Homo sapiens: one gene and its partners. The protein of the gene in region 3 purifies or fractionates together with the protein of the main gene of each other region. This does not show direct contact. Each region holds a gene or a part of one and is shown on either strand. Other genes may lie near its edges.

The links.
Region 1: the proteins of COPS8 (region 3) and DCAF1 purify together in Homo sapiens (affinity purification with mass spectrometry; 5 studies listed by BioGRID and IntAct, with this or other methods). This does not show direct contact.
Region 2: the proteins of COPS8 (region 3) and CUL2 purify together in Homo sapiens (affinity purification with mass spectrometry; 5 studies listed by BioGRID and IntAct, with this or other methods). This does not show direct contact.
Region 4: the proteins of COPS8 (region 3) and CUL4A purify together in Homo sapiens (affinity purification with mass spectrometry; 11 studies listed by BioGRID and IntAct, with this or other methods). This does not show direct contact.

Annotation. Positions count from the first base shown.
Region 1 is NC_000003.12:51,412,786-51,420,656, reverse strand, and holds part of DCAF1 (DDB1- and CUL4-associated factor 1), read left to right. Parts: coding exon 1-923; intron 924-1,780; coding exon 1,781-1,979; intron 1,980-2,458; coding exon 2,459-2,541; intron 2,542-3,785; coding exon 3,786-3,870; intron 3,871-5,799; coding exon 5,800-6,033; intron 6,034-6,613; coding exon 6,614-6,707; intron 6,708-7,270; coding exon 7,271-7,375; intron 7,376-7,590; coding exon 7,591-7,664; intron 7,665-7,871. UniProt on the Homo sapiens protein: Acts both as a substrate recognition component of E3 ubiquitin-protein ligase complexes and as an atypical serine/threonine-protein kinase, playing key roles in various processes such as cell cycle, telomerase regulation and histone modification.
Region 2 is NC_000010.11:35,031,080-35,038,950, reverse strand, and holds part of CUL2 (cullin-2), read left to right. Parts: coding exon 1-31; intron 32-3,654; coding exon 3,655-3,779; intron 3,780-5,677; coding exon 5,678-5,785; intron 5,786-6,456; coding exon 6,457-6,516; intron 6,517-7,331; coding exon 7,332-7,460; intron 7,461-7,564; coding exon 7,565-7,651; intron 7,652-7,871.
Region 3 is NC_000002.12:237,088,257-237,096,127, forward strand, and holds part of COPS8 (COP9 signalosome complex subunit 8), read left to right. Parts: intron 1-348; coding exon 349-397; intron 398-1,605; coding exon 1,606-1,738; intron 1,739-5,833; coding exon 5,834-5,941; intron 5,942-7,565; coding exon 7,566-7,628; intron 7,629-7,871. UniProt on the Homo sapiens protein: Component of the COP9 signalosome complex (CSN), a complex involved in various cellular and developmental processes.
Region 4 is NC_000013.11:113,261,413-113,268,279, forward strand, and holds the end of CUL4A (cullin-4A), read left to right. Parts: intron 1-1,507; exon of another isoform or gene 1,508-1,587; intron 1,588-2,074; coding exon 2,075-2,170; 3' UTR 2,171-5,696; downstream 5,697-6,867. UniProt on the Homo sapiens protein: Core component of multiple cullin-RING-based E3 ubiquitin-protein ligase complexes which mediate the ubiquitination of target proteins. As a scaffold protein may contribute to catalysis through positioning of the substrate and the ubiquitin-conjugating enzyme.

The DNA of each region.
Region 1 (7,871 bases), on a different chromosome or scaffold from region 3:
CGGCAGATCATCAGTAAACTGCCCCTTTTCAGCAGCTGCCAGATCCAGCAGCTGATGAAGGAGCCTGTGCTGCAGGACAAGCGCAGTGACCATGTCAAGTTCTGCAAGTATGCTGCTGAACTCATTGAACGGGTGTCAGGAAAACCACTTCTCATTGGCACTGATGTTTCCCTAGCACGACTGCAGAAAGCAGATGTTGTTGCCCAGTCAAGGATCTCCTTCCCTGAGAAAGAGCTGCTTTTGTTGATACGAAACCATCTTATTTCTAAAGGGCTTGGAGAAACAGCAACCGTGCTGACAAAAGAGGCTGACCTGCCCATGACTGCTGCCTCCCATTCTTCTGCCTTTACCCCAGTCACTGCTGCTGCTTCTCCTGTCTCTCTACCCCGAACCCCTCGTATCGCTAATGGCATTGCAACTCGTCTGGGCAGCCATGCTGCTGTGGGTGCCTCTGCGCCTTCTGCCCCTACTGCTCATCCTCAGCCACGGCCCCCCCAGGGTCCGCTAGCTCTGCCCGGCCCATCTTATGCAGGCAACTCCCCTTTGATTGGTAGAATCAGTTTTATCAGAGAGAGGCCATCACCCTGCAATGGCAGGAAAATCAGAGTGTTGCGGCAGAAGTCGGACCATGGTGCCTACAGCCAAAGCCCAGCCATAAAAAAACAGCTGGACAGACATCTTCCTTCCCCACCTACGCTGGACAGTATAATCACAGAGTATCTTAGAGAACAACATGCTCGCTGCAAGAATCCAGTTGCCACCTGCCCACCTTTCTCCCTCTTTACTCCTCACCAATGTCCTGAGCCAAAACAGAGGCGGCAAGCGCCAATAAACTTTACGTCAAGGCTAAACCGCAGGGCATCATTTCCAAAGTATGGAGGGGTGGATGGCGGATGCTTTGATAGGCACCTTATCTTTAGCAGGTAAGAAGAGGCCCCTTCTTACTCCCTGGGAATTGGAATGATTCTTTTATTTAAATCAAACTGGGCAGTATCAGCATAGTTGTCCTGAAATACCACTGATTGTTACTTTGTGTAATACTTGAACAATGTAATTGTACCACCTTTTGTCAACCATGGGTTCCTTGTGTGATTGTTGGCAGTATATTGATATAATCGTTTGTGTTCTCATCTCAACTAGTATGTTTTCTAGAACCCACACCCCCTCATTACTACTGTCCATAAGGAGGCTCCCAAACTTGTGCTGGTGCAAGTTGCTTCCTGTTCTGATTCTTGACAAATCTTACATAAAGGTTACGGGATCACAGGTTTTAAACATGGGAATTTTTTTTTTTTTTGGAGACGGAGTCTCTCTATCGCCCAGGCTGGAGTACAGTGGTGCTATCTTGGCTCACTGCAACCTCTGCCTCCTAGGTTCGAGTGATTCTCCTGCCTCAGCCTCCTGAGTAGCTGGGATTACAGGCAGGCACCACCATATCTAGCTAATTTTTGCATTTTTAGTAGAGATGGGGTTTTACCATGTTGGCCAGGCTGGTCTTGAATTCCTGACCTCAATTGATACCCCCCCTTCGGCCTCCCAAAGTGCTAGGATTATAGGCATGAGCCACTGTGTCTGGCCTAAACATGGGAATTTTTGTTATTTAAATTTGTAAGTGGAAATCTTTTTCTTATTTAAAATAAAAAGCACTGAAGGTCACTGTGATTTTGGAAGAAGCCATTTGAAACATTAATGTTCTGTGCTTTTTCTTCTATCCTAGCAGTTTGCTTTTTCTGAGTCCCTGCACATTCTTTGCCTGTGATTCTCTCTTTTTTTTGCTTAGATTCCGTCCTATTTCAGTGTTCCGGGAAGCCAATGAAGATGAGAGTGGCTTCACCTGCTGTGCATTCTCAGCACGGGAGCGGTTCCTGATGCTTGGCACCTGCACAGGGCAGCTGAAGCTCTATAATGTGTTTAGTGGACAGGAGGAGGCCAGCTATAACTGTCACAACTCAGCCATCACACATCTTGAACCTTCCAGGGTAAGGGTTCCTTCCTAGGATGCTCTCAGTCATTCTTCCAAGATGAATTGGTGAACTAGAGTAAAGGAGGCTTACCCTTTATTGAGCTCTCTCTTTTAAATGAGTCCTCAACTGGAAAGTCTAGTTGAGGTTAATTCATATTTCAGATGGAGACTGAGGAATATGGCAAAGTTAGTAGGAAGAAAGGAACCATCTTTGACATCTTCTCATTTTCCCCCCTCCCTTTTATCTATTCTATTTTTGTGGCTAGTTCAGTAGGATTTAATATTCTCTTAAGTTTGGTTATTTTATAGGACACTATAGGTGTATGTATTCAAATCCTAGTGGCTTCTGACCATTTCTTGGTTTCTGGGGATTATAAAATTGTCTCTTTAATTCAACAACATTTTTATGCAAATCTTTAAAAATGCTAATGGCAGGTAGTGACATCTGCATGTATGTAAATACGTGGTTACCCACCTTGCGCCTTTTTCTTTTAGGATGGGTCCTTGCTGCTGACATCTGCTACTTGGAGCCAGCCTTTGTCTGCACTTTGGGGAATGAAGTCAGTATTTGATATGAAGTATGTATCTGCTTTTGGAACCTAGTCTGTGCTTTATTTACCTAGTTTATACCCCCCTTCATTTGGTTCTTAGACTGGAAGCCTTTTGGGGAAAGAGGATGCTGTCGGTTATTGTTAACTTCTCTCTTCCTCATCTAAGACTCATGTTTAATAAGACTTTATCTTTCTTAATTCCTAGATACTTTTATGAGGTATATACATTCTCATTATGCAGCAGACCCCGACCCAGAATCTATGTATTTTCCCATGTTCACATAGGACATTGCAGTCTTTGCTGTGTCTCCTCTCCTCTCCTCTCCCCTCCCCTCCCCCCTCACCTCCCCTCCTTTTCTCTCTCCTCTCTTCTCCTCTCCTTTCCTTTCCTTTCCTTTTTTTTTTCTTTTTTTTATTTTTTGTGAGACAGAGTCTCGTTCTGTCGCCCAGGCTGGAGTGCAGTGGCGCGATCTCAGCCTACTGCAAGCTCCGCCTCCCGGGTTCACACCGTTCTCCTGCCTTAGCCTCCCGAGCAGCTGGGACTAGAGGCGCCCGCCACCACACCTGGCTAATATTTTATATTTTTAGTAGAGACAGCGTTTCACTGTGTTAGCCAGGATGGTGTTGATCTCCTGACCTTGTGATCCGCTGGCCTTGGCCTCCCAAAGTGCTGGGATTACAGGCCTGAGCCACCGCACCTGGCCTTTTCTTTTCTTTCCTTCTTTAGACGGGGTCTCATTCTGTCACTTAGGTTGGAGTGCGGTGGCACAAACATGACCTACTGCAACCTCCACCTCCCAGGCTCAAGTGATCCTCTCATCTCAGCCTGCTGAGTAGCTGGGACCACAGGCATATGCCACCACGCCTGGCTAATTTTTTGCATTTTTGATAGAGATAGGGTTTCGACATGTTGCCCAGGGTGGTCTCGAACTCCTGAGCTTAGACAATCCACCTGCCTCAGCCTCTCAAAGTGCTGGGATTGTAGGAGTGAGCTACCATGCCTGGCCCCTTTGCTGCGTGTTTCAAAGGCACATGTGCCCTGTTTGTCATTTCTCTAAGGAATTCCCATTCATTATTTTGTATCTGCTTGGTTAAGGTGATAGAAGGAATTTTCTTTGTAATCTAAGTGTATGATTGTTTCCTCTTTGGGAGTCCAGGATCTTTAGGTGAGTGTGATTGTGCAAGAGGCTGGGGGTCACCTGTGTTTCAGTTGGTTGCAGGAATATGTCCTGAAGATCTGTCACTTCAGTGCTCCTGTTGTTTGTCCATAGGCATTCCTTCACAGAAGATCACTATGTTGAGTTCAGTAAGCACTCCCAGGATCGGGTCATCGGCACAAAAGGAGACATTGCCCACGTAAGTACTTAAGAACCACTGTTTTCAAGCTGATCATACCCATTTGTTCATACTGAAATCTTCTTGATAGAATGTGAGGACCTAAGTCCTTTGGGCAACTAGAAATCAGTGATATTCCTTCTAGTTAGAATCTAAAAGTATGATAATATAGTTCTGAGCTGTATGGGAAAAATGTATAAGGGCTAAATGTGACATTGAGAAAGATGTCATTAGCACCACAGATATTTTTGAATTCTTAGTAAGTTTTAGATTAGAAATGAAACCCCTGCCTTTATGGACCCTCATTGGGGAGACAATAAAGAAGCAAATATACGGTAAATTTAGGTGGTAAGTGTTTCAGAGAAAATGAAAGCAGGGTAAGAGGTAGGAAATGCTTGGTGGTGGTGTGGGGGACTTCTCTTTTATCTAGGGTAGACAGCATCACTGATGGGGTAATGTTTAAGCAGAGCCTTGAAGGAAACGCGAGATTCAGGAAGATACCTGGAGGAACAGCGTAAGGCACAGGAAATGGCAAGGGAAAAGCCCTTGCTTGGGAGGTGGGAGGAGAGCTGAGGTCAGTGAGGGGCCTGTATCTGGTAGCATCTTGTAGGTGGTAGTTAGGGCCTTTAGCTTTTTTTTTGAGTGAGATGAAGACACTGGTGGGTGAGTAGAGGATACATGAGTGGATGTAAAGTTCCTGAAGTGTGACTCTGGTTTTTGTGAGAGAAGCAAGAGCAGCCTTCCAGGTCAGAGGGTGTTGTACCACCTGACACATGAGAGGAGCTGTGGGTTTGGGCCTGGGTAGGCATGGTAGAGGCTATGAGAAATGGAGGACCTTGGCCCTGGGATTTTGGACACATGAAATTTGAGATTCTCTTAGACATTCAAGTAGAGAATGGGGATTGAATACAAAAGTTGGGAGCTGGCCAGACTTAGTGGCTTCTGCCTGTAATCCCAGCACTTTGGGAGGCTGAGGTGGGAGGCCAGGAGTTCGAGACCAGCCTGGGCAACATAGAGAGACTCCCCCCATCTCTACAAAAAATAAACAAAATTGGCTGAGCTTGGTGGGCTTGGGACCTATAGTCCCAGCTACTCAGGAAGCTGAGACGGGAGGGTTGCTTGAGCCCATGAGTTGGAGGCTGCTGTGAGCTATGATTATGTCACTGTACTCCAGCCTGAGTAACCAAGTGAGACCCTGTCTCTGAAAATAAAAACAACAAAAAATTGGGAGTTCAAGAGAGAGGTGTGGGTTGGGAAATATAAATATGGGACTTGTCCACATATTGACAGTATTTATTTATTTATTTATTTTTGAGACAGGGTCTTGTTCTGTCACCCAGGCTGCAGTGCAGTGGCACGATCACAGCTCACCACAGCCTTGACTGCCTGGACTCAAGCAATCCTCTTACCTCAGCCTCCTGAGTAGCTGGGACTACAGGCGAGCACCATCACACCTGGCTAATTTTTTTGTATTTTTGTAGAGACGGCATTTCCCCAACGTTGCCCAGGCTGGTCTCGAACTCCTGGGCTCAAGTGATCCACTTTTCTTGGTGTCCCAAAATGTTGGCATTGCAGGCATGAGTCACTGTCCCCAGCTGATAGTATTTACAGCCATGAACTTATATGAGATCATCAAGGGGACTAGAGAAGAGTTGTGGGTATAGAACCCTGGCATGTGTTTAGGAGTTGCCAAATGAGGAACTTGGGAAGGAAATCAAATATAATGGCCAGTAAGGCAGAATGGAACCCCGAGAAAAAGAGGTGCCTGGCCGGGTGCGGTGGCTCACGCCTGTAATCCCAGCACTTTGGGAGGCAGTATTCTGTGGTAATCATTGATCCATGTGGAGAATTTGTGTGTTAATTTTAGAAACTGCTTTGCACATTTTCTCTTTAATTTGTCAGTGGATGGATTGGTCTGATTTTTCTCTTCCCATCCCTTCTTCTCTAAAGATTTATGATATTCAGACTGGCAACAAGCTGTTGACTCTGTTTAACCCAGATCTTGCCAACAACTACAAGAGGAACTGTGCCACCTTTAATCCTACAGATGATCTTGTCTTAAATGATGGCGTCCTCTGGGATGTCCGCTCTGCACAGGCCATCCACAAGTTTGACAAGTTCAATATGAACATCAGTGGTGTTTTCCATCCAAATGGACTGGAGGTGATCATTAATACTGAGATTGTATCCTTTATACTCATGTCTTACCTTCCATTTGTTGTCTGGTTTGTGGTGCAGAAATAATTTGTTCTATCTTTATACCAATACCTGGTTAAAGTGTCCACACTGGTAATAATATGGTGCCTGTCCTTTGGTTTGAAATGTTAGTGAAATCTCCAAAGCACTGTTGCCAATGTTAGTAATTACTGACAACTTTCACTAGCATGTTTTCTATGTATTTGGTAAGAGTGACCAGTTTCCTACCTCCCAGTTCTCCAAGAATTGAATTAGCTTTTATCTGTCTTCAGAAGGATTTTACTTTTGCTCTGTAAAAAATCAGTTGCCACATAAGAGGAAAATGAAGTACTACTGTTGGGAGGAAAAGAGCTCATAAAGCATTCCTGTATATGAGGATACCCTAGGATATTTTCAGAGACATCATTCAATAATATGCATTCTACATGTATTTGTTTTACCTTGATCTCATTGACTTTTAAAGTATCAATACCTGGCAGGAGGAAAAAAAGTGATATTTTAGAATTTCCTCCCATGAGATTAGATAAGTTTTGTGTAAAATAGTTTTCCTTGACCATTCCCCTCCTAGTGGGACCTTCGAACTTTTCATCTTTTGCATACTGTTCCCGCTCTGGATCAGTGTCGCGTGGTGTTCAATCACACGGGAACAGTGATGTATGGAGGTAATAAACCTTATCCTTCATTATTCTCTTTCCTTTTGCTCTACCCCTTCACTTAATTTGATACTTCTTTTTGGAACCATCTCTCACTTGTGAATTGGAAAGCATTTGAGAGTTGTAACATAAAAGATAAAAAATTGATAGTATGAATGGTGACAAAAGATATGAAAATAATGTTGGTTTAGGGTGAAAGGCAGCTTACTTTGAAGATAACAAGGAAATCTTGTATGGAAAGAAATTTCATGCAGTATTTTCCAGTGTATCATTATGAACTTAAGAGCTTTTGCATTTGTCCTCTTGTGTTGTTATAAGCCTTGTAAGTACAGTAACACTTCTTGGAGGTAGATGAGAGGCTGAGGATATTATTTGTCACAATAGGTGGGATATGCAAGGAAGATGCTCTGAGAGGAGCTAACTAGATGCAGAGTAGATTTCTGTACAAGGGAATTTGTATGTAAACCTATATGCAAGTAGATTGTTTTGATTGGCCATTAACATTTTCTGCACTTGTGAAGAGGGGATGTTTGTGATTCCTAATAGTGTTTCCTCCCCCACTCCCCCTCAAGCTATGTTGCAGGCAGATGATGAAGATGACTTAATGGAAGAGAGGATGAAAAGCCCCTTTGGGTCATCCTTCCGAACATTTAATGCAACTGACTACAAACCTATAGGTAAGCAGAAAGGGACAGACATTGAACATTTTGTCGTGTTTTGGTGTTCCTTATTTAAGATCCTTCATTTTCTGGAGGCCTGTAATTTTTTATTGAAAAACAGAGAAGTTATGGAAATACTTTTGAGCAATCATCCTGAATTCCTTTAGAGGAAAAGCAGGTTTTAGGGTCACAGCAATAGTCCAATCCCAATCTTCTCACATTCTATTTTCCAGCAACCATTGATGTGAAACGGAACATCTTTGACCTGTGTACAGACACCAAAGACTGCTATCTTGCTGTCATTGAGGTAAAGGGAGCTTGCAGAGGCCCTGCTCTTTTGTTCTGATGTTTAGGATAATTTTCAAGTTGTACTACAGACATTTTGTCTGATATAAGATGTAAAGTCAATACATTCCTGAAGGTAGATTATTGATAACCTATTCATTTGATGGGGCTTGGGAGATGTACAGTACAAAGAGAAATAGTAAGAAAATCCCAATATAAGACAGCTTAG
Region 2 (7,871 bases), on a different chromosome or scaffold from region 3:
CATAATATAATTCGACAAGAGAAAAAAAATGGTAAGTGACACCAAACATGAGTAGAAATTAAATTATAAATCCACCTTTTATATCATCCTCTAGTCACCCTTGATTTAATGCCTATTTTAGTAATAGTCTTTAAAATATTTTAAATAACCTTTTACAGATTATTAATACTTTATTTTGAAAGACTATTTTAGGAAAGTGTTTTCAGAGTGTTCTAAAATCAGAAGAAAAAGTGGGAAATTGTGTTTATACATTTTTATATATTACAAGAGCTAATTTCCTTAATGCATTTAGAATTCCTGATAAACAGTAGGAATAAAGGCAAAGACTATAAAAAGGAAATACAAATATTATGTAATAAATGTAATAATTTATATAATATAAAAAATCAGCTATATCTGATTTTTTTTTTTTTTTTTTTTTTTTTGAGACAGAGTCTCACTCTGTCGCCCAGGCTGGAGTGCAGCGGCGTGCTCTTGGCTCGCTGCAACCTCCGCCTCCCAGATTCAAGTGATTCTCCTGCCTCAGACTCCTGAGTAGCTGGGATTACAGGCGCTCATCACCACACCTGGCTAATTTTTTTGTACTTTTAGTAGAGACAGGGTTTCACCATGTTGGTCAGGCTGGTCTCGGACTCCTGACCTTGTGGTCCGCCCGCCTCAGCCTCCCAAAGTGCTGGGATTACAGGCGTGAGCCACTGCGCCCGGCCTCTCTGATTTTTAAAAAAACAAAAAACATGCATTACTTTTATAGGCAGGAAAGATAATAAATATGTATATTTTATTTAATTAATTAATTTTTTTGAGATGGAGTCTCGCTCCGTCGCCCAGGCTGGAGTGCAATGGCATGATCTTGGCTCATTGCAACCCCTGCCTCCCAGGTTCAAGCAATTCTGCCTCAGCCTCCCAAGTAGCTGGGATTGCAGGTGTGTGCCATCACATCCAGCTAATTTTTGTATTTTTAGTAGAGACGGGGTGTCACCATGTTGGCCTCCTGGTCTTGAGCTCCTGACCTCAGATAATCTGCTTGCCCCGGCCTCCCGAAGTGCTGGGATTACAGGTGTGAGTCACCGCGCCCGGCCATTAATCAGGCTTTTTGTTTTTGTTTTTTGAGACGGAGTCCCGCTCTGTGGCCCAGGCTATAATGCAGTGGCGCGATCTCTGTTCACTATAACCTCTGCCTCCTGGGTTCAAGCGATTCTCCTGCCTCAGCCTCCTGAGTAGCTGGGACTACAGGCATCCGCCCCCACACCTGGCTAATTTTTGTATTTTTAGTAGAGACGAGGTTTCACTATGTTGGCCGGCTGGTCTCGAACTCCTGAGCTCGTGATCCACCTGCCTTGGCCTCCCAAAGTGCTGGGATTATAGACACGAGCCACCACCCTTGGCCCCGTGTTTTTTACAGCAACATTAATTTCATAGATCCAGGGCAATGTAGTCAAAACCCAATAATTTCATTTTAATTCCGAAAGTCACTGTCTTGAAGAGTATGATGGAAAGACTTTAATGACCAGCAAGACTTATTGTAAAACCTATAGTAATTAAGACAGTGAGGCATTGGTACAAGGACAGACAGATATCCTAATAAAATAAGAGATCCTAGAAACAACCCAAGCATATGTGGCCACTTGATGTAAGACCAAGGTGGCGCTGCAGAGCGGCAGGTAAAAGATGGTCTTTTCAACACGCATTGCTCAGTCAATTGGATATCCATTTCAGAAGAAAATGAAATTTGATCACTACCTCAAGATACCATATACAAAATCAATTCACTATTGAGTTTTTTCTCTAAATGTACAAGGTAAAAAAATAACACTTCTAGAAGATAATATAGAAGAATATCTTCATAACCTTGAGACAGGGAAAGATATTTTAAATAGGACACAAAAAGCCCTAACCACAAAGGAACGATTGATCCAGTGAACTACATTAAAATGAAAAACTTTGGATTATTAAAAGGCCATTAAGAGGGAGGAAGATTGCTTGAGCTCAGGAGTACAAGACCAGCCTGGGCAACATGACAGTATCCCATCTCTGCAAAAAAATACAAGCATTAGCCAGGCGGGGTGGTGTGCACCTGTGGTCCCATCTACTTGGGAGGCTGAGGTGGGAGGATCACTTGAATCTGGGAGGTGGTGGTTGCAGTGAGCCGAGATCCTGCCACTGCACTCCAGCCTGGGTGACAGAGTAAGACCCTGTCTCAAAAAAAGCCATTAAAACCACTGGATCATCAGAAGACAGTTATAGGGTAATGTACCTGCAATACTAAAGATTTATATCCAAAATATAAAATGCTCAAAAAACAGGCACTGCAGAATAGAAGATACCCAGATGGCCAATAAACATAGAAAGAAGTGTGAAGTAGCAGGAACTTGTTGAACACTGAAGTGAGAGTATAAATTGATGCAACTACTTTGGGAAACTGGCACTGACCGCTAAGTGGGATATATTATGCATATTTTATGATCCAGCAGTTCTCCTAAACATATAACCACCCCCCAGCTTTACCTCCCCACTGCCAATGCCTGGACATATATACAAAAAGACATACAGGAATGTTCATAGTAGTGTTTGTAATAGCTCCATAAACTGGAACAGCTCAAATGTCCAGTTACTGTAGAATAGTACAGTATATTCATACAATGGAATATTATAGAGGAGTGGAAATGAACAAATTAAAGCCATGCACAACAACATAGATGATCCTTATACACATGTTGAACACAAGAAGCCAGACACGAAAGAATTGTGTGATCCCATTTTTATACGTAGTTCAAACTCATCTGTGATTTAGAAGTCACAGCAGTGGTTACCTTTGCAGAGGAGCAAGAGTGTGTGATTGGAAGGAGGCATGAAGGGGACTCCTGGGTGTAGGTAATGCCTGTTTCTTATCCTGCGTGTGATTACATGGGTGTGTTGTGTGTTCACTTGTGATAATTCAGTAAGATATACACTTATGGTTTGTATACTTTTCTGTATATGTATGATGCTTTAATGAAACGTTTAAAATTAAACCTACTACACTGAGAGATCATTATTCACCTCCCAGTGTTAGAGATCAAAACATTTGGCAACACATTGTTGGCAAAGGAACTCTCTGCTGTTGGCAGCTGTGGTTAGAAGGATCTGTCTACAAGATTAAACTTTGACACAGTAACCTCACTTTTGGGAACTTATATTGCATATATTCTTGCTCATGTATAAGATTATTGATTGCAACATTGCAATATCAAGAGACTGGAAACCACCTAAATTTCCATCAGTTGTTAAGAAATTATATCCACATAATGGAGTACTGTGCAGCTGTAAAATACATAGAAATGCTTTGTGTACTGATAGGAAAAGACCACTAAGTTAAAATGTGTTCTGAAGCTACAAATAATATACAAAATACAGTACACTGTATTAAAAGGGGCAAAGGGAAGAATATATGTATTCACTTGAATTTGCACAAAATATCTTTGGGAAGATGTTAAATAACCACATCCCTTTCCTGTGGGGAGAGGGGCTTGGGTGGCTGGGAGGTGGGCATGGGGGACTTTTCTCTGGGTGCTCTGCACTTGGATCCGTATATTGTACTCCTGCACTTGGATCCATATATTACCTAATAAATGAAAATATTTGGGAGTTAACCCTCAGATGTCTTTTTCCTCTCAGACATGGCAAATATGTACGTCTTACTCCGTGCTGTGTCCACTGGTTTACCTCATATGATTCAGGAGCTGCAAAACCACATCCATGATGAGGGCCTTCGAGCAACCAGCAACCTTACTCAGGAAAACGTGAGTTGTGTGGGAAACTGCAATGTTTTCCTCCTAATCAGATCCAGCGTGGAGCCTTTCCTTTGACTTTATTGTTTTGAAAGATGAAAGAAAAAGTCTTACCATGCCAACGAAAGAAATGTCTTTATTCAAATGTTTTAAACCTAGAATTTGTTGGACTCATTTTGGAATTATCAGATTATTAGAAAGCTATTGATAGGCTGCTGCTTAGCCATACGGAGGGTGTCCATTGAACAGTTGTTAACTTTCCACAGGAAAATAAGCTCGCCATTTTTAAATAACTGTGTTTTTGTGTAATTGGCATTGATAACGTAGTTTGTTGTCATGGTAGTAGTATTAATCAGTGGTAATATAGACGACTTGCAATTTGCCTCCTTTCCATATCCTCTGAATTTGGTTGTCCAGGAAGCAAATTTAGATTAAAATAATCTTCTGTAAGTATATGCTTGCTGCCCCAAATACCCAAAACAATAACCCTCATATCCCTAATACTCATCTTTCTCGAATACTTTGCCAATCACATGACTGTAACAGTTTGTACTGTAACAGTTTGTCTTTCCCATCACCAAATCTTGTTATTACTGGTAATGTTTGATGAGCAAGAGAGAAATAACTTCAAATGTTACTGTCTCTTCTTAAGTAGAGCTGTTTGCCCTTCATCTATAAGATAGTATCTGTGTATAGACGTCACTGTTCAGGAGCACTTTTTAGAGGCTGTTACCTTAGCTGCAGATTGGTTTTTGGCAAGTAATAATTTTTAGTTTTTATGTTATGCCACAATAATGTGTAAGTTTTCTATTTTTTTATTTCTTCAAATTCCCTTTACCACAGTTTTCTATTTTTTGTAGAACTATTAGTTTATAGTATTCAGGTTTATTACTCTATTATTTGTCAAACTTACTAGTTTACATTATTACGTTTATAGATTCCATGTCCAATGACATTGGGCATAGAAGCATCGAATTTTGTGTCAAGGCTGGGAGATGGAAACATAAGTGAATACATTTGTGGTAGACTCAAATCCAACTGACTTAGTTAAGTCTTAGGTAGTAACTTCTTCATGGTTATCTCCATTAAGAGGGAAAACTCACTTTTGTACTATTAGGTATTTCTTCTCTCTGAGATGTGAGGGATTGTCTTGCCGAGTTCAAGGGGTCTCTGTTCTCAGGATTATTGGCTTTTTAACTCTCCTTTCTCTCAGCCTTTAGTGACTTTGCAGGCAGTCTTTGCTTATTTAAGCCTCTATGAAAGTGATAGACCTGGTAGTTCAGGTCTTGTTATCCTTAAGATAAGTTATTCCAACACAGTAGAAAAGTATGCTTTTGGTGGGTTCTTCTGACAGGTACTAGACAGTCTATGACAGCTTGTTGTGTTGAATGACAAGCTATTTTCTTTCTTCCTTTTTTTTTTTTTTTGTTGTTGTTGTTGTTTTTCTGAGACGGAGTCTCACTCTGTCGCCCAAGCTGGAGTGCAGTGGTGCGATCTCTGCTCACTGCAACCTCCACCTCCCTGGTTCCAGCAGTTCCCCTGCCTCAGCCTCCCGTGTAGCTGGGATTACAGGTGGACGCCACCACGTCTGGCTAATTTTTTTGTATTTTTAGTAGAGACGGGGTTTCACCGTGTTGGCCAGGATGGTCTCGATCTCCTGACCTCATGATCCGCCCGCCTCAGCCTCCCAGAAGTGCTGGGATTACAGGTGTGAGCCACTGTGCCCAGCCTTCAACACCAAAGTTGTAAATTTCTAAGACCGTCTTAGCTAAAACCATTTTCTGAGAAGTGTGCATGTGTGAAACATAATTTCCTTGAGGAAAAATTTACTAATAAGTCTAATAAACCTCATAGTTTGGATATCCTTGAACCTCTTAAAATGTGGTTTTGTACTTATATTTCATTTTTAGATGCCAACACTATTTGTGGAGTCAGTTTTGGAAGTGCATGGTAAATTTGTTCAGCTTATCAACACTGTTTTGAATGGTGATCAGCATTTTATGAGTGCGTTGGATAAGGTAAGTTTTAAATACATATATACTATATATGTACATAAAACTCTATCATTCTTTAGGCAGTTTCAAGATCAGAATTCTAGTATGAGGTTTCTGATGTAGACATGGAGATTAAGTAATTTTGATATGAAATTCAAAATAGAAATAATATAATTTTTAAATTATTAACTGAATAGTTAAATTGAATGCTTGTAGAATGTCCCGTGATTATGCTATATAAGGGGAATTTTTAATCTGATATGTTCTGGATAGACATGCATAATTTTGCAATTTTTAGTACTGATTTTTTTTCTTTGGCCATAATACTTAGGCTATATTGAATAATATTTGAAAAGAGAATAGATATGTTTTACATGAACTTTTGCATACGTTAAAGGAAAGCTGCTTACAAGATTGTAAGTTTTTTTTTAAGTAACGTTATTTTATCTGTTCAAATTTCGATAATGAGTTACAGAATATCTTGGAATAGCAACAGGATATATAGATATTTTGTAATTAGAGAATAAAGTCAGAGGAGTCTACCATGTTAGGCATGAAAATATTAACAAACTACCGGCAATGCTGTGTTTTATGTGGCGGGGTAATTTTTGGATGTACAGATTATGGCTTATATTGAACTAGCTGTACTTTTTCCCTATGGCTGGTGGTTAATTATGGCGTGTTTTTTTATTCAGGCCCTTACGTCAGTTGTAAATTACAGAGAACCTAAGTCTGTTTGCAAAGCACCTGAACTGGTAAGTTTGGTGGTTGCTGAAAAGTAATCTTATGAAAAGTCAGTATTAGAAAATGAGAACTCAGAATATCAAATTAATTTGGTTTTTGTAGCATTTTTCAGAAAAATAGAAGGAAAATTATCTACATTGTATATAGTTTGGCATTTATGTAAGGAATGCAATATACTATGTGTCTTAAAGAATAACCATTTTACAAAGTTTGGGTTTTAATGTATATCTACTTTGAAATAATTTGCAATACTTTTCATGTAGATTCTGTTACATCTGAAATCTAAAGGAAATCTGATGATAAAGTTTGGGTAACCTTTGAAGGAAACTTGCTTACAAGATTTTTGTAACTTTTTTTTAAAGTACTTGTTCAATGTCAAAAATTATAAAACCACTCGAAACTCACCTAGGTGTTCTTTTAAAAATTTGTATTACTTATATCAGTTGCTTTATTGGTCAATAAGTGATGATTTGATATTTGACTTGTTCTTTTTAAAAATTTACCTTATGATGTATATTTTATTTAGTTTACATTTATGATTATTACATAAAGCTTTAGAAGCCTGGTGTGGTTGTGCATGCCTGTAGTCCCAACTACTTGGGAGGCTGAGGCAGGAGGATCCTTTGAGCCTAGGAGTTTGAGGCTGCAGTGAGCTATGATCTTGTCCACTGCAATCCAGCCTGGCAACAGAGCAAGACCCGGTCTCTAAAAAAAACAGCAAAAATTCTGTCCGCTGATCTTACCTTGTATCACCACTTTGCCTCCTTTGAGGCGTGATATATACAGAAGCACCCTTTGTAAGATTTATTATCAATTTCTACATGAGCTTGCTAAGTACTGTGACAACTTACTGAAGAAGTCAGCGAAAGGGATGACAGAGAATGAAGTGGAAGACAGGCTCACGAGCTTCATCACAGTGTTCAAATACATTGATGACAAGGACGTCTTTCAAAAGGTATGTTGTGAACAGAAAAGTTTCATTTGTATTTTGGTCAACTTTATTTCTGAATGCTAAATCATTAGAAAGGAAGTAATCTTTTAAAATATTTTTAAATGTAGTTCTACGCAAGAATGCTGGCAAAACGTTTAATTCATGGGTTATCCATGTCTATGGACTCTGAAGAAGCCATGATCAACAAATTAAAGGTAATGTAAGTCTTTAATGTGGTATTGTCCTAGAAATTCATTCACAAGCACATAAAGATGTTCATTGCAGCATTGTGTACAGTAACAGGAAACAATTCATCTGGTTAAATGTGTATTTGTGTAGTCACACAGTGGGATATACAAATACTGTATTAAAAGGACAAAATGTATATGTTTATATATGAAGATTCACAAGATAATCAGTATTAATGATAAAAGA
Region 3 (7,871 bases):
TTGATAGTACATAAATTTGTTTACTTTTATATCCTAATAAATAATTTGGGCCGTCTATAAATCCTCGTGTTTTTAGTGTGCTGTTGCCTAAATTTAGGATATGGATTATTATTTTTAAAAAATTCACTAGAAATGGCAAAATATTACTTTGGTAAAAATATTTCATGTCCTTTTTATCTGGAAAACCACTATTGTTTCCCCAAAACAAATTCATATAAAACTAAATTTTACTTTGTGTTATGTGAAGTATACTTCTGTATGTTTGGCTTGGGACCTGGTAGTTTTTAACATTTCCTGAGATGATTATGTTTTTAATTGATTATTCTTCTTTGTGGTGGCGTAAATTAGGAATAATGCAAGATATCTTTGGAAAAGAATACCACCTGCTATAAAATCTGTAAGTATCCTTTAAACCTATTTTACTGCTTTAATGTAATGACATTCCCTTAAATGGCAACCTTTTATAAGCTTATGTTTTCTATCTGACGTCCTAGTAATAGTCATCAGATTGGTATTAAGGATTCGAAATAAATCTTCAGAGTCCTCTAATCAGAAATTTGAATTTTGCTGGGATGGTGTAGAATTTCTGCTCAGTTCCTACTGATTAGATTTCTTGAGACGCTTTTATGTGCAGCTTCCCTAGTTAAACAGCTGAGCCAGTTTAGATGAAGGAAGCTCCTGGAGGTGGCGGAGGCAGCTGAGGTGATTTTCAGCTGGTTTATGTTGCTTCCTATAATGGTACTTATTTTGAAACTGCCATCGTTTACAAGAATACTCTAAGAATGATTGACAGCAATAAGATTATTTTTGTTAATTAGGATTTTAAATTTCTTATTTTGGTTGGGAGATTAGAAGAAATAGCCTGTGAAAAGGTTCTTCCAAAGTGGAATGAAGTAAAATTTTAATGTCAAATGATTCCATGTGTCTAACATGAGTGTCAAGTGAAATTTTTAACATTCTCGGGATATTACCAAGAATTCATCTAAACTTTTGTTTATTGATATTCATCAAGAGATCGGATTAGTATTTTTACTCTTTTTTTTTCCCTCATACATTCTGTTCTGTTAAGTAAGATTGGAATATTCCTCAGCTTCTTTGGCTAAATAAAGAAGTACTATAAATCATGCACATAAGTTTCAATGGCGTTAGTGGAAACTCAATCCTTAGAGAGGCTACAATGTATGACATCTTAGATTGAGAGTCTCTATTGTTAACCATTTTGCTATTACTTTTGACCTAAATATATATTCATAATATATCTATGAAATACAAATACAACATCTTTAAAAACAATCCTTAAGCTAATTAGTCCCCAGGCTTAATTCTGAAATGTTTTTTGACTACTTTCTCATGCCTTAATTTGCTATTGTAATAAATTTATATCAGCCCTACAGATAAATTTTACCTTACTGCTCATAGTGTTTAAAAACCTTTTGATAGTGATTGGGCTGAAAAAGTAATTGCATCTTTTAAAATAAATGTTGAATTAGGTTTTAATGATGTAGCTAACAAGTTTTTATATCATTTCTGGTATTTTGTTTTAAGATACAATCATTGGTGCATTTACAGAGTGAATACCCTCTAAGGCAATAATATTTATTGCAGGCAAATTCTGAACTTGGGGGAATTTGGTCAGTAGGACAAAGAATCTGGCAGAGAGATTTCCCTGGGATCTATACAACCATCAACGCTCACCAGTGGTCTGAGACGGTCCAGCCAATTATGGAAGCACTTAGAGGTAGTGTTTCTTTGTGGTTAAAAATGAAATTAGATGAGACTTAGTCCCTAAGTGCTGCAGTGTTGAAGTAATAAATCAGTGGTGTGTGTTTAAGTAGATATTTTTGATAGGTGAAAAGAGCAGTTTTCAGAATTTTTTAGATTTGCCCTAATCATGCTTCTTCATTTTTTGTTGCTTGAGATTACATTGGCTGCTGTGCTTTTGTTGTTTCTTAATTCTAGACAGAAATTGCTCGTCAGTTTTAAGAGTTTTTTTTGCTATTAAAACGAGATCTTGTAATATTCTAATAAGTTTAAGGTATGGGTTTGTAGAGATGTGAAAATAGAGACTGCTCTTTGAATTTTGTCAGCCTCAGCCTTTGATAGGTGTTGTCTTAAGCTTCTGGATTTTATAATTTATCAGTTTAATACATAGATGCTCAAATGTGTTTTTAATTGCTTTGAAAGATTACAAGCCTGGTGTGACAGAGCACTGATCCCACAATAAAATCTCATTCCCTGCCTCTCTACAGTCTCTCACCCCTAGCATTTGCTTCCAGTCCTCCTGGTTCACTCTTTATAAAATTATATAATCTTGTTTTATGTTGTCATGTACTGTTATTTCTTATTGTTACCCTTACTTCCATAGTTAATATCCACCTTCACTGTATGCCTTCCTGCTGTGGAGGAAGTCAGTGAGCAGGAATTTTTTTAATAACTGTTCATCACTCTGCTAAGGGATATCAGCTTTACAGGGCAGCAGACAGCAGAGATTGTTTCTGAAATGCACATAATTCCCTTGGAATGGTAAAATTCTTAGCAGCATAAAACATAACAATGTAAGTGACAGAACAGGAGGCAGCTACTTTAAATGTGAATGAAATGAGCAGAGTCCTAAGGCAGGCAGATAGATGGGAAGGGAGGAGTGTGGAAGAAGATTGCACAGGTACAGCAGGGGCAGTTTCAGAAAGTAGCACCAGAAACCTCTTCATATAAGCCCTGAGGAATTAGCGTTATAGTGGACTTCCATAGTATCCTCGTGATTCAGCCTTGTGATTGTGGTGGGGCGGTCACAGGCCATGTGCCTTTTCCCAGTGTTTTACAGCGGGTTGATTGGCAGGACTGGGCTTGGGAACTCCTTACTCGTTCAGCAAGCATTCTCTTGTGCACCGTCGGGTCCGTAGTTTTATTCCTTCCCGGAGCCGCCTCTCACTGAATTCCATGAGATTGAGAATTCCTGGCAAGCAGTTCAGTAGACCCAGGAAAGGCTATATAGCGTACCATGCGGGAGTTTAAGCTCTGGGTCCTTGCTTCCGGAGTTCAAATTCTGATTCTGTCACTTACTAGGGTGACTCCTCAGTGTCTTATTTTCCTCATTTGTGAAATGTGATTAGAAATAGTACTTTTTCAGGTTGTAAATGAGTTAATATATAAACATGTACCTTATTCTAAAGCACTACAGTATTCCTGAACATATCCTGAGACTTTTACAAATCTCCAGATTCATGAATGGTACTGTGGTTTCCTTTGTAAAATGCAGCCAGGTCAGGATAGTCTCTTAACAGATTGGTCTTACTGATGAATTTAACATTTTGCTTCTTAACTTATTAGAAACTTATTTTCTAGTTGAGAACAATCACTTTCTTAGATCTCTTTCCATTCTCTTCTAAATTAGGCACAGTCCTATTAGAAAACTGAAAATGACTTAAGAGAAGCTAGTGAAAACTATTTTTGCAGGAAACAAGGGCTGAGGAAGTACTTAGAAACTAGGTAGACAGTAGCCATTCTCATCTGAGGCTTGAAAGGGCAAGGCGAGGGGCCAGTGTTACTGGGGCTGCCCCACAGGATGGATACAGAAGGTCAGCTGGAGCAAGGCAGGGAAAGGGCATAGGAAGTGAATTCCCTGACCTTCCTTCCCAGCCTCTGACCTGATAGAGCCCCAATTCGCCAAAGCAAGAGAGCTCAGGTGCAACAGGCATTGGCGGCCAACCTCCCTGGCACACAGCATGGCTGGGAAAGACAGAAGAGGATTCGAAAGGATGGGAGTGACTAGTTCATCTTCCCTTCTGTCTCCAGCACTGGCAGTGATGGATGAGCAGCACTTGAGTATTTGTTGAACAACTGAGTTTGCATTCTGTTAGCATTTGTTTTCACCAAAAATGTGTTCCATCAACTACTGCCACAGATATTAGGTGCTGGCTCAATTTATTCCACCTTCCAGCGTGTCATTCTAGGGCCTGAGGTTACAGATTTCACAACTTGAGGATCACAGAGTGACTAGTCGGAATGTAGATGTGATTCGTGCCAAGTGGATATTGCAGCTTCTGAGACAGAGAACACTTAGCCTTTATTTTTGCTTTGTCAACTCACTTCTCCCATCACATGTTTTTCTTTCCTTTTCCAGTGATATCTTTTTACTTTTCTCTCCCTTTTATCTCCTCCATTCTTACTGTATTCCTGTTTTATTCCCCACTCTGAAAATATGGCCAGAATATTTGAACTGAAGTAAATGTTTTTGAAATACAGTTGACTTACCAAATGAATATAGTTTTATGGTGTATACTTTTACTTCTCTAAAAAAAAAAAGTATACTTTCCATTGTTGGCTCTTTTCCATTGTTGGCTCAGTTCTTTTCCATTGAATGTATGCAGCCTTAATAGAAAACGTTTCTTGGTATTGCAAAGTCTGTTAGGTTACAGGCTGGTTGAAGGAAGGAAGGAACCTACAATAATAAGTGTAAAGCCACAGAAGGAAGAGCAGACAGTGGCTGAGTGAAAGCTGGAGAGGATGTCGGGCTCAGATGAGGGGAAGGGATGGGAGTGTCGGCAGTTTTTAAGGAATCTGAGAAAACAAAGCCTAAGTGTTGGAGTCGTGCCCCATTTTGGTCCTCGTGATGCCATCAACAAGCATGTATTTGGCATATATTTCACTGGAGATGCTAGGTGTTTGGGGGACTTTGAGGATAAGAGATACCCCTTCCTGTCGAGAAGTTTGGAATATAATTGAAAAGAAGGGGATAGGTGGAACAGTGTCTGCCGTAGTGGAAAGTTGCTTGTTAAAGTAGAAGTGTAAACAATACTGCTGAGTTTAGAGAAGGGCAGAGATCGTAATGAATTATAAACAGACTTAGGAATGGTAGAGAGCAGACAGGAGGGCATTTCAGGCCACGGGATAGCATAAACCAAAAGCCCCAGGGGGAGAAGGTGTAAGACTTGTCTGAGAGCCAGTGGACTCGTTTGGCACAAAGGGTATCTGGGGGAATTGGTGTAGTTTGACAATGTCCCAGGAATGGAGAGAAGATTTTAAATATGTTAGGGTGTTTGTTTTACATATGTACACTGGCCTATTAAATATGGAAAGTAAAATCCAGAATATTTCCTAAGCATGTTGACCACCAGGTGGAGGAGCTCTTGCATTACCAATGAGCAATGCCCAGGGAGAAAGGCCAGCTGGTTTCACAGTGCTCAACTCTACCGTACTCCTGAGTTTATTTAATTGGGTATGGAAGCCTGGGGACAATCCTAAATGCCACTTTCAGGAAAGTTTTCGTTGCTGGTATTGTTTGGCAGTCCCTTCTTAGAGTCATTCTTTCAAGGTGGGAATTTAGGATTTTGAACCTTAATTCAGTCAAGAGTTTGATGCAGACTTGGAAGAATGCTCCAGTTACAAGATTTGTTCTGTAACTCCCAGGTGTGGTCCTGTATTAGAGACGTTTTTGAAAAGGACAGCTGATTACGCAAATCAGTTTTCTGCTCCTTTGATTCCAGCATTTGTAAATGAAATAAGATAAGTAAAATTTATATCCCCATTGCATAAACATACTGCATTTTCTTAGGGTTAGAGCCTTGTGTTTAGTAACCTTTTTCCATCTTTGTAATTTTCATTATCTGAGATTTTTCATCCAAGAGGAAGTGTAAGAAATGTATTTTTTTCCAGCAATATTTGAACCCCCCGTACATACTGGGCATATGTATTTGTATCTATAAGCACAGAAATCTTTGGGTTCATCTGGCCTTGCTTATGAAAACTAGACAAGGACAGTGGTGTGATTTAACAATGTGCTTTGAAAATGCTGCTCCCTGGTTCACTCTCTGCCAACCCACCACTCCCACAATAGATGCAACAAGGAGACGCGCCTTTGCCCTGGTCTCTCAAGCGTATACTTCAATCATCGCCGATGATTTTGCAGCCTTTGTTGGACTTCCTGTAGAAGAGGCTGTGAAAGGTAATTTTGGCTTACTTTTTACTTATAAGGAAAATGGAAAATAGAAGTGTGAATTGTAGGTTCACAGTCTCCTCTGAAACACTTGGAACAGAATATGCTTTTGGAGTCCAGGCTGTGTTTTTTGAGAGGTGATATGAAACAGGTGTTGTGGAACACCCAGCAGGCACCCTGCAGTCAAGCATATTAATAGTTCTATAGCAAGCAAATGTGTGAGTATCCACACAGTTGGTTACAAAAATATGTCTTAATTGGTCTCTTTACTCATATTTGGAAATCCTTATTTCACCCTTATTTGATAAAGGCAGCATCATCCCCACGTCCCTTTTCATTTTCCCTGCCATTTCTGACCCATACCCTAGGCGCTTGCTTGCTCCCCACTCATACCTGCTGGTCTCTCCAAATGTAACTTTGCATTTTCATTTCTCAGCTGATGCCCAGACTAATCCTTCCTGTTGCTCGTTGTTATAGAATACTGTATACACCTGGCCAGGTGCAGTGGCTCACACCTGTAATCCCAGCACTTTGGGAGGCCGAGGCGGGTGGATCATGATGAGGTCAGGAGTTCGAGACCAGCCTGGCCAACATGGTGAAAGCCCGTCTCTACTAAAAATACAAAAAATTAGCCAGGTGTGGTGGCAGGCACCTGTAATCCCAACTACTCAGGAGGCTGAGGCAGGAGAATCGCATGAATCCAGGAGGTGGAGGTTGCAGTGAGCTGAGACTGTGCCACTGCACTCTAGCCTGGGCAACACAGTGAGATTCCATATCAAAAATATATATATATATCGTATACACCTTGTTGCATTGTTTTGCCATGATTGACATTTTTGATTCTCCAGCTAAAATATGAGCACCATCACGCACTACATCCTAAATTTCCAGGGCCTAGCATAGTTGTAGATACATGAAGATAGGTTAATGAAAGTTCTAAGTTATTACTTTTATTTACTCATACAAACATTTATTTCTTTTGGCTCTTAAAATTGGTCCATCATTTATTTTCTATATATAACATACTTCAGAGCTCGTATTCTCAGCTGACCACCTGGATGTGAATGCTGGTACCACCCGTCCCTGATGCTAGTGGCTATGTGACTTAGGACAAATCACTTGAATTTCCCTCAACTTTATTTTCCATACCTGTCAAACGATGGCCCTATATCCCACTTCATAGAGTTGTGGTGATTACATAAAATCATCCCTATAAAAGCACGTAGTCTGGTACCTACAGGTAAACCTTCCATATATGGAAGCTGTTTTTATTATTGCCATCTTTGTTATTACTGATATGATGGTCACAAAAGGCGCCATATCAGTTTTCCTTCTGTTTGTTTTAAATAATACTGATTAGGTTAATACTATAATATATTCTTGACAGAAAACTAACCATCTTTTAATGATTATAGCAACCTAATAGAGTAAAATGAGGCTTTGATACCTGTTTCAGAAATATTTCAATAATAAGTTTCCATGCTCTTTGTAATATACCTTTCTAGTAAAAATGCATATGACGGGTTATACTAAACACATCAGGTCTTCTGTACAACTAATGTCATGGACAAGTTGTGGATTTTGTGGGGTGTTTTATTCTTTCCGGATCTTTATGTGTAATATACTTTTTTAGGCATATTAGAACAAGGATGGCAAGCTGATTCCACCACAAGAATGGTTCTGCCCAGAAAGCCAGGTAGGTGGAGCTTTCACCCATTTACGCAGCACTGGACTCTTCTAAGACTGCTTCAGGTTTTCAGTCTTTGGTTTTTGATAATTGGATGTAAAATTCGGCTATACTAACACAATGGAAATAACTCATTTTAAATAAAGCGTAGTAGACGGGGTAGAAAGGATCACCTAGTTTAAACTCTTAAAAATGTATTTCCTGTATATAAATGATTTTACGTAGGTTTTTCATGGTCCTTACACCTTAGTT
Region 4 (6,867 bases), on a different chromosome or scaffold from region 3:
CATTCCATCAAGGGAATAAAGTTGAGATGCACTAAATAGTCGAACACTTAAGAGTCTGGTGGAAGTGCCACTGTCCATCAGCCCACATTTGCCCCCTTCCCTGCAGAGGTGAGGTGCCGTCCTCAGGGCCCTGGGAAGCTCCAAAAGCACCATCAGGTTCACTGCCCCTTCCTCCCACCAGCTGGAGCAAGTCTCCTGTTGCCACTGCAAACAATCAGGCCCAGCGCGAAGCAGAGGTGAGCAAGAGTGGAGTGTGGCAGACCAGGGCACCTGCTCTGCTCTCGGGTAGAGAGTGGCAGACCAGGGCGCCCACTCTGCTCTCAGGGGTAGAGTGTGGCAGACCAGGGCGCCCGCTCTGCTCTCGGGTAGTTGGGTTTTTTTTTTCTTTGAGATGGAGTCTTGCTGTCCCCCAGGATGGAGTGCAGTGGCACGATCTCGGCTCACTGTAACCTCTGCCTCTCGGGTTCAAGCAGTTCTCCTGCCTCAGCCTCCTGAGTAGCTGGGCTTACAGGCACGCGCCACCACACCCAGCTAATTTTTGTATTTTTAGTAGAGACAGGGTTTTACCGTGTGGTCAGGCTGGTCTCAAACTCCTGACCTCGTGATCCGCCTGCCTCAACCTCCCAAAGTGCTGGGATTACAGGCGTGAGCCACCGCGCCCAGCCTCAGCCACATCTTGTAAAATGTGTGGCTTATCACTGAATAGAAGGTGAAGTTTGTTTGGAAAATAGAGGGTCTCCCTTGTATAGGGAGAGCCTTGCACGTAAGTGCTCACACAGATTTTCTTCCTAATACAGCAGAGCTGGAGTGGCTGTTCCCTCTGGGCAGAGACAGGCTGTGGCTGTGGATTCGTCTCCTCAGTCACCTACTCTTAGTGCAGGAACACTGGGGATTGTAGTTTCACTTACGTGGACATGGCATGCAATAACTATGTAAATACACGAGAATAAAACTACAGGCCAGGCGCACTGCCTCACGCCAGCGATCCCAGCACTTTGGGAGCTGAGGCAGGCGGATTGATTGAGCCCAGGAATTTGAGACCAGCCTGGGCAACATAGTGAGACCCCTTCTCTACAAAAAATAAAATTAGCCAGGCATGGTGGTGTGCAGCCTGTGATCCCAGCTACTGGGGAGGCTGAAGCACGAAGATTGCTTGAGTCCAGGAGGTGGAGGCTGCAGTGAGCTGAGATCGCACCACTGCACTCCAGCCTGGGCGACAAAATGAGACCCCATCTCAAAATAAATAAACAAAATAAAATACACTACTTAGGCAGAAGCATCCTTTCAAAGGATAAAAGTTGCCCCAGTAAGACATGTTGAGATTTTCCTTTCAAATAAAAATGTGTCACGTGATCGGGTCTGCCTCACTTATACGTGCCCTTGCTGATGGCAGATGTCGGATCTGCCTCGCTTATACGTGCCCTTGCTGATGGCAGATGTCGGATCTGCCTCGCTTATACGTGCCCTTGCTGATGGCAGATGTCGGATCTGCCTCGCTTATACGTGCCCTTGCTGATGGCAGATGTCGGATCTGCCTCGCTTATACGTGCCCTTGCTGATGGCAGATGTCGGGTCTGCCTCGCTTATACGTGCCCTTGCTGATGGCAGATGTCGGGTCTGCCTCGCTTATACGTGCCCTTGCTGATGGCAGATGTCGGGTCTGCCTCGCTTATACGTGCCCTTGCTGATGGCAGATGTCGGGTCTGCCTCACTTATACGTGCCCTTGCTGATGGCAGATGTCGGATCTGCCTCGCTTATACGTGCCCTTACTGATGGCAGATGATGTATGTACATTTCACAAGTTTCACGTTTCCCTCAGGAAACCACACTCTGACCATAAACTCACATGGACGCTTTTTTTATCAAGAGATAACGTTAACTTTGTCTTTAAAATAGAAAGTTTTGTTCATTTCATAAATATGTGTATAATTATAAATGATTTTCATATAAATATCTATTTGTATATATATTTCTATAAGTATAGTTACATACTTCATGCATATACCCCTTGTATGTAAATGTTTGTAAATTTAATGCCATTGTAATTAGGGGGGTTTTATTCTTCTTTTTTAGCCTGGAGATTTGAAAAAGAGAATTGAATCTCTGATAGACAGAGACTATATGGAGAGAGACAAAGACAATCCGAATCAGTACCACTACGTGGCCTGACGCATCTGCAGACGGTTCCCCTTCATGAAACACTAGAATGTACCCTCAGAGCAGGAAGCACACCTGTGCCATTTCTGGGACTCTGATTGATCCAGCTGTGGACATTGGAAGGCGAAGGAAGGGAGGTGGCTCCTGGGTCATCTTTCACAAGGCTCAAGACTTCAACCTGCAGATGTATCTTTTTCCCTCCAGTTTTTCCTCTAGTTCTTTTAGGCATTTAAATTGTTTCTGTTACTCTGTGCAAAATAACTTTGAGATTGGACAAGAAGATGTTACTAAAGAGAAGTTCCTTTAAAAGGTCTTGTTCTTGTGTCAAAAAGCTGCAAGTTTGGTTTGTTCTCGTGTGTGATCATGAGTGCACAATGAAGAAGACCCTAGATGCTGCATTTTTTAGCTCTGAAGATTCCTTAGGTATCCCTGAAGACAGCTCGCTCAGATGATCAGCATTTAGAGTGAAAACAAGGGCCCTTCATGGGTGAACATTAGAAAGAGCCAGGGTTCAAAGCTGGCGAATGGATGACGCACCCTAGCCACTGGCCCCTCTCTGTTTCATGTATTTCCAAAAGTTGTAAACTTTGATGGCTGATTTTTCGTAAGTCAGGTTTCTAAGTGAGCTCCCTGAGGTGCCAAGGCCATGGTGTCCGCCCTGCTGCGTCTGTTCGTCAGCTGAGTTCCTTGTGAATCTCTGTTTTAGGGTTTGGGGCTAGTGTGTTTGTGTTTCCATTCTAAGATTGAGTCTGGCAGTCCCTGTTTTTTTGCATTGGGGTAACTGCTCTTTGATTTTTTTTAATTGCAGTATTTGTGTGATTGCAATAATAAAGTTTGGTTTGGTTTTTACAGTCATGCGCAGGGACGATCCTTGTTCTCTGCTGTAAACTGTAAAAAGTTTATGGAGACTTAAAGTCTTGATGTTGTGAAGCAGAGGTTATTTTGTGGAAAGATTAAAAGGATTTTGTTGGTACCTGGTTTTGTGTTGTGTATATATACATGAGGTTGAACAGTGAAAGGAAAGTTCAGTAGTGATGTTAGAAGGGTAACTATGACAAAGATACTTTTGAGATAACATTTAAAAGTACTTTATATTTTACATAATAGCATGTTTCATTTTGATTAAAAGCTACCAAAGGAATTTTGATCATGGCATAAGTGTTTAAAGCAATATTTTCTGGAATATACCAAGTTTATATAATTTGATTTTGTGCTAAATTATTAAGAGTCTCTTTTTGAAACATGCGGGTTTGAAATATGACACCTTGTGGGTTTCCATATTAAAATCCTCACTCTTTAATTGTCATTTCTATCTTTGAAAATTTTCATTTATGAGTTCCATGATATGTGGTCTAAGAAAGACCAAACAGATTTCTATTTTTTTTTTCTTATAAGTTCGTTGTGTCTAGAGATTGTTAATATTGTAATTTAATGTAGACTTACTTTGAATAAAATTAGTTTAATTGGCCTTAAAATTACATTAATAAAACTTTGTGATATGCAAATGACACATTCTTCATAACTCTTTAGCAGCTTTGACTACTAGTGCACTAGACAGAAGTCAGAGCAGGGAGCACCTGTCCCCTCTCAAGTGATTATTCTTTCCTGGCCACCTCTACCACAAAATACCAGTGGGGCCAGGTAGTGACAAGTGGGTCTTTTTTACTTGGACGATTCGTTGTGCTGTGCCTTTGTTTCATTTGAGCACAGTGGCTCACGCCTGTAGTCCCAGCTATGGGAGGGCAAGGTGGGAGGATCGTTTGAGCCTGAGTTCCAGACCATCCTGAGCACCATAGGGAGATCCTGTTTCCATTTTAGTTTATTTATTTTTAATTGAGGTGGAGTCTTGCTCTGTTGCCCAAGCTGGAGTGCAGTGGTGCAATCTCAGCTCACTGCACCCTCCGCCTCCTGGGTTCAAGCAGTTCTCCCACCTCAGTCTCCCAAGTAGCTGGGATTACAGGCACCCGCCATCATGCCCAGCTAATATTTGTATTTTTGTAGAGACGGGGTTTCACTATGTTGGCCAGACTGGTCTTGAACTCCTAACCTCAGGTGATCTGCCCGCCTTGGCCTCCCAAAGTGCTGGGATTACAGGCGTGAGCCACCATGCCCGGCCTGCCTGTTTCTGTTTTATAAAAGAAAGGAAAATCTATTTATATCTATTCTCTTATTTAGCAATATTTAATGTTTTATTGTTAAAGGTCAGTGTGGTAAAACAAATAGTATAGAAGAAATCATTGAAAAAGAAACAGCACTTAGACAGAAATGCTGTAAAAGTGGAAAGGAGAAGGTGAAATTACTTGCAGGTTAGATGGTTGCATACCCAGGTCATCTAAGGAGCAAATGAAAATCTGTGACTGAAGAAAGAATTCACCAAGTTAACCAGACACAAAATTAACAAAAACATCAGTAGCTTTCCTATAAATATAGGCTATAATGGAGGGTCATTTTTTATTTTTATTTAGAGACAGGGTCTTAACTGTCACCTGGACTGGAGTGCAGTGGCATGATCATGTTTCACGGCAGCCTCTACCTTCTGGGCTCAAGCGATCCTCTCTTCTCAGCCACCTGAGTAGCTGGGCCTACAGGTGTACATCACCACGCCCAGATAATTTTTATTGTATTTTTTATAGAGGCAGTGTCTTGCTATGTTGCCAAGGCTGTTCTTGTACTCCTGGCCTCAAGCGAACCTCCTACCTCAGCCTCCCCAAATGCTGGGATTACAGGCATGAGACACTGCACCTGACCAGAAGTCATTTTTTCAATAGCAACCCCCAAAAAAGATAAAATACCTAGTAACAAATAGGGAAACACCTATGTGAAAGGTATTATAACATTACTAAGGAACACAGGCCCTGAATAAGTGAAAGTTCTGTTGATTCTCACATTTTGCTATACAGTATCTTAAGATGTAAAACCTTCCTTTAAAACACAAGCGGATTCTAAAGTTAAAACAGAAAAGCAAATATGCCAGACTAGTCAAATTGTTTTAAATTCTGCTGTTTTTAGAACATTGTAATTGAAACAGCATGATGCTGGCCCTTTAAAAAGATTCCTGGAACAAGAAAGTCCACAAATAAGCCAAATACACAGGAACTCGGCGTGGCACAAAGGGGCCGTGTGTGATCAGGAACTGGAACTTTGCAACAACTACCCATGCTCAGAAGTTTGGGCCACCTTGAAAAGAGAAAAGTTGGATTAGACTCCTTTTTATACTAAGGGAAGTTCCAAGTGGTCAAGTATTTACGTGTAAAAAAATACATATATATGAAACCATAATCATAAGATACTTTTTTTGTAAATTGACTATTATTGTATAAATTTATAGAGTATAAAGTGATCTTATAAATTATGCATACATTGTGGACTAGTCAAGCTAGTTACATCCATCACCTCAAATACTTAACATTTTTGTAGTGAGAACATCTGAAATTTACTCTTAGCAATTTTGAAATGTACAATACTCAATTTTTGACTGTATTCACCATGCTGTACAATAGAACTCAGAAAAAGAAAAATATAGTCCTCCTTTCTAAGATTTTTGGACCCGTTGCCCCTTTATTTGTGTTTTTCCACTAAGTGATCTAGTGAATTCACATCGATTTTTTTAAAAAAGGATTGACATTAAATGACATCTTTTAAAGTCAACATGGGGGAAAACAAGGTTAAAAAAACTGGAACCCTTGCCGGGCACCATGGCTCATCCCTGTAATCCCAGCACTTTGGGAGTCTGAGGCGGGCGGATCACGAGGTCAGGAGATCGAGACCATCCTGGCTAACACAGTGAAACCCCGTCTGTACTGAAAATACAAAAAAAAAAGCCCAACGTGGCGGCAGGCGTCTGTAGTCCCAGTTGCTGGGGAGGCTGAGGCAGGAGAATGGCGTGAACCCGGGAGGCGGAGCTTACAGTGAGCTGAGATCACGCCACTGCTCTCCAGCCTGGATGACAGAGCAAAACTCCATCTCAAAAAAAAAAAAAAACTGGAACCATCTTGGATAAAATGTACGACAAAGTACTGATGAGTTTAATGTTAACAGAACTAGAAGTCAGCAAGAAGACCAGCAACAAGCCTTCGGATAAGTGAGTTCTTCATTAGCTTTAAGAGAGTGGGAGCAGAGGAAACGGGTACCGTGAGGGCAGACCTGCTTTCAAGAACAGATGAACAGCGGCTGAGAATGACTCCAAGAGGTCGCAGGAGCAGAGCTGCATTTCAGTGGCAGGTGACTGGGCATTGTCCTGCAGCAAGGCCCTAATATCCCAGGAGAGGGCAGGATCGAGGGCACAGGGAGTGGGGGCAGGTGAGGGCTGGCCATAGGTGTGGTGCCGGGGGAGACATTGGTTGTGACGGTGACCATGGCCCTAGGCTGGAGGGTGGGGGGGTCATGTAACATGAAGATTTAGGAGGTAAGCTTGGAGGGCGCAGCTGTTGGCAATGATGGTCTGGGTGAGGACAGACGGGGAACTGGGGCCAGAGCATGGGAGACAAGACCTGATGGTCGTCCAGCAGTCAGGGACGGTGACAGGAGCCAGTGATGGAGGCCCTGAGTGCAGGACAGCCCTGAGGCCTGGAGGTGGGCCAGCCAGTGAGAAGGGCGCACCCCCGCCGGGGTGTCCAGCAGCATGGAAGGAGCATGGCCTGGAAGCAGCAATGGGCAGAAGGGAGGGCCTCGCCCCAGATGCAGCCCCAGGGGGAGGGTCACGAAGTGAG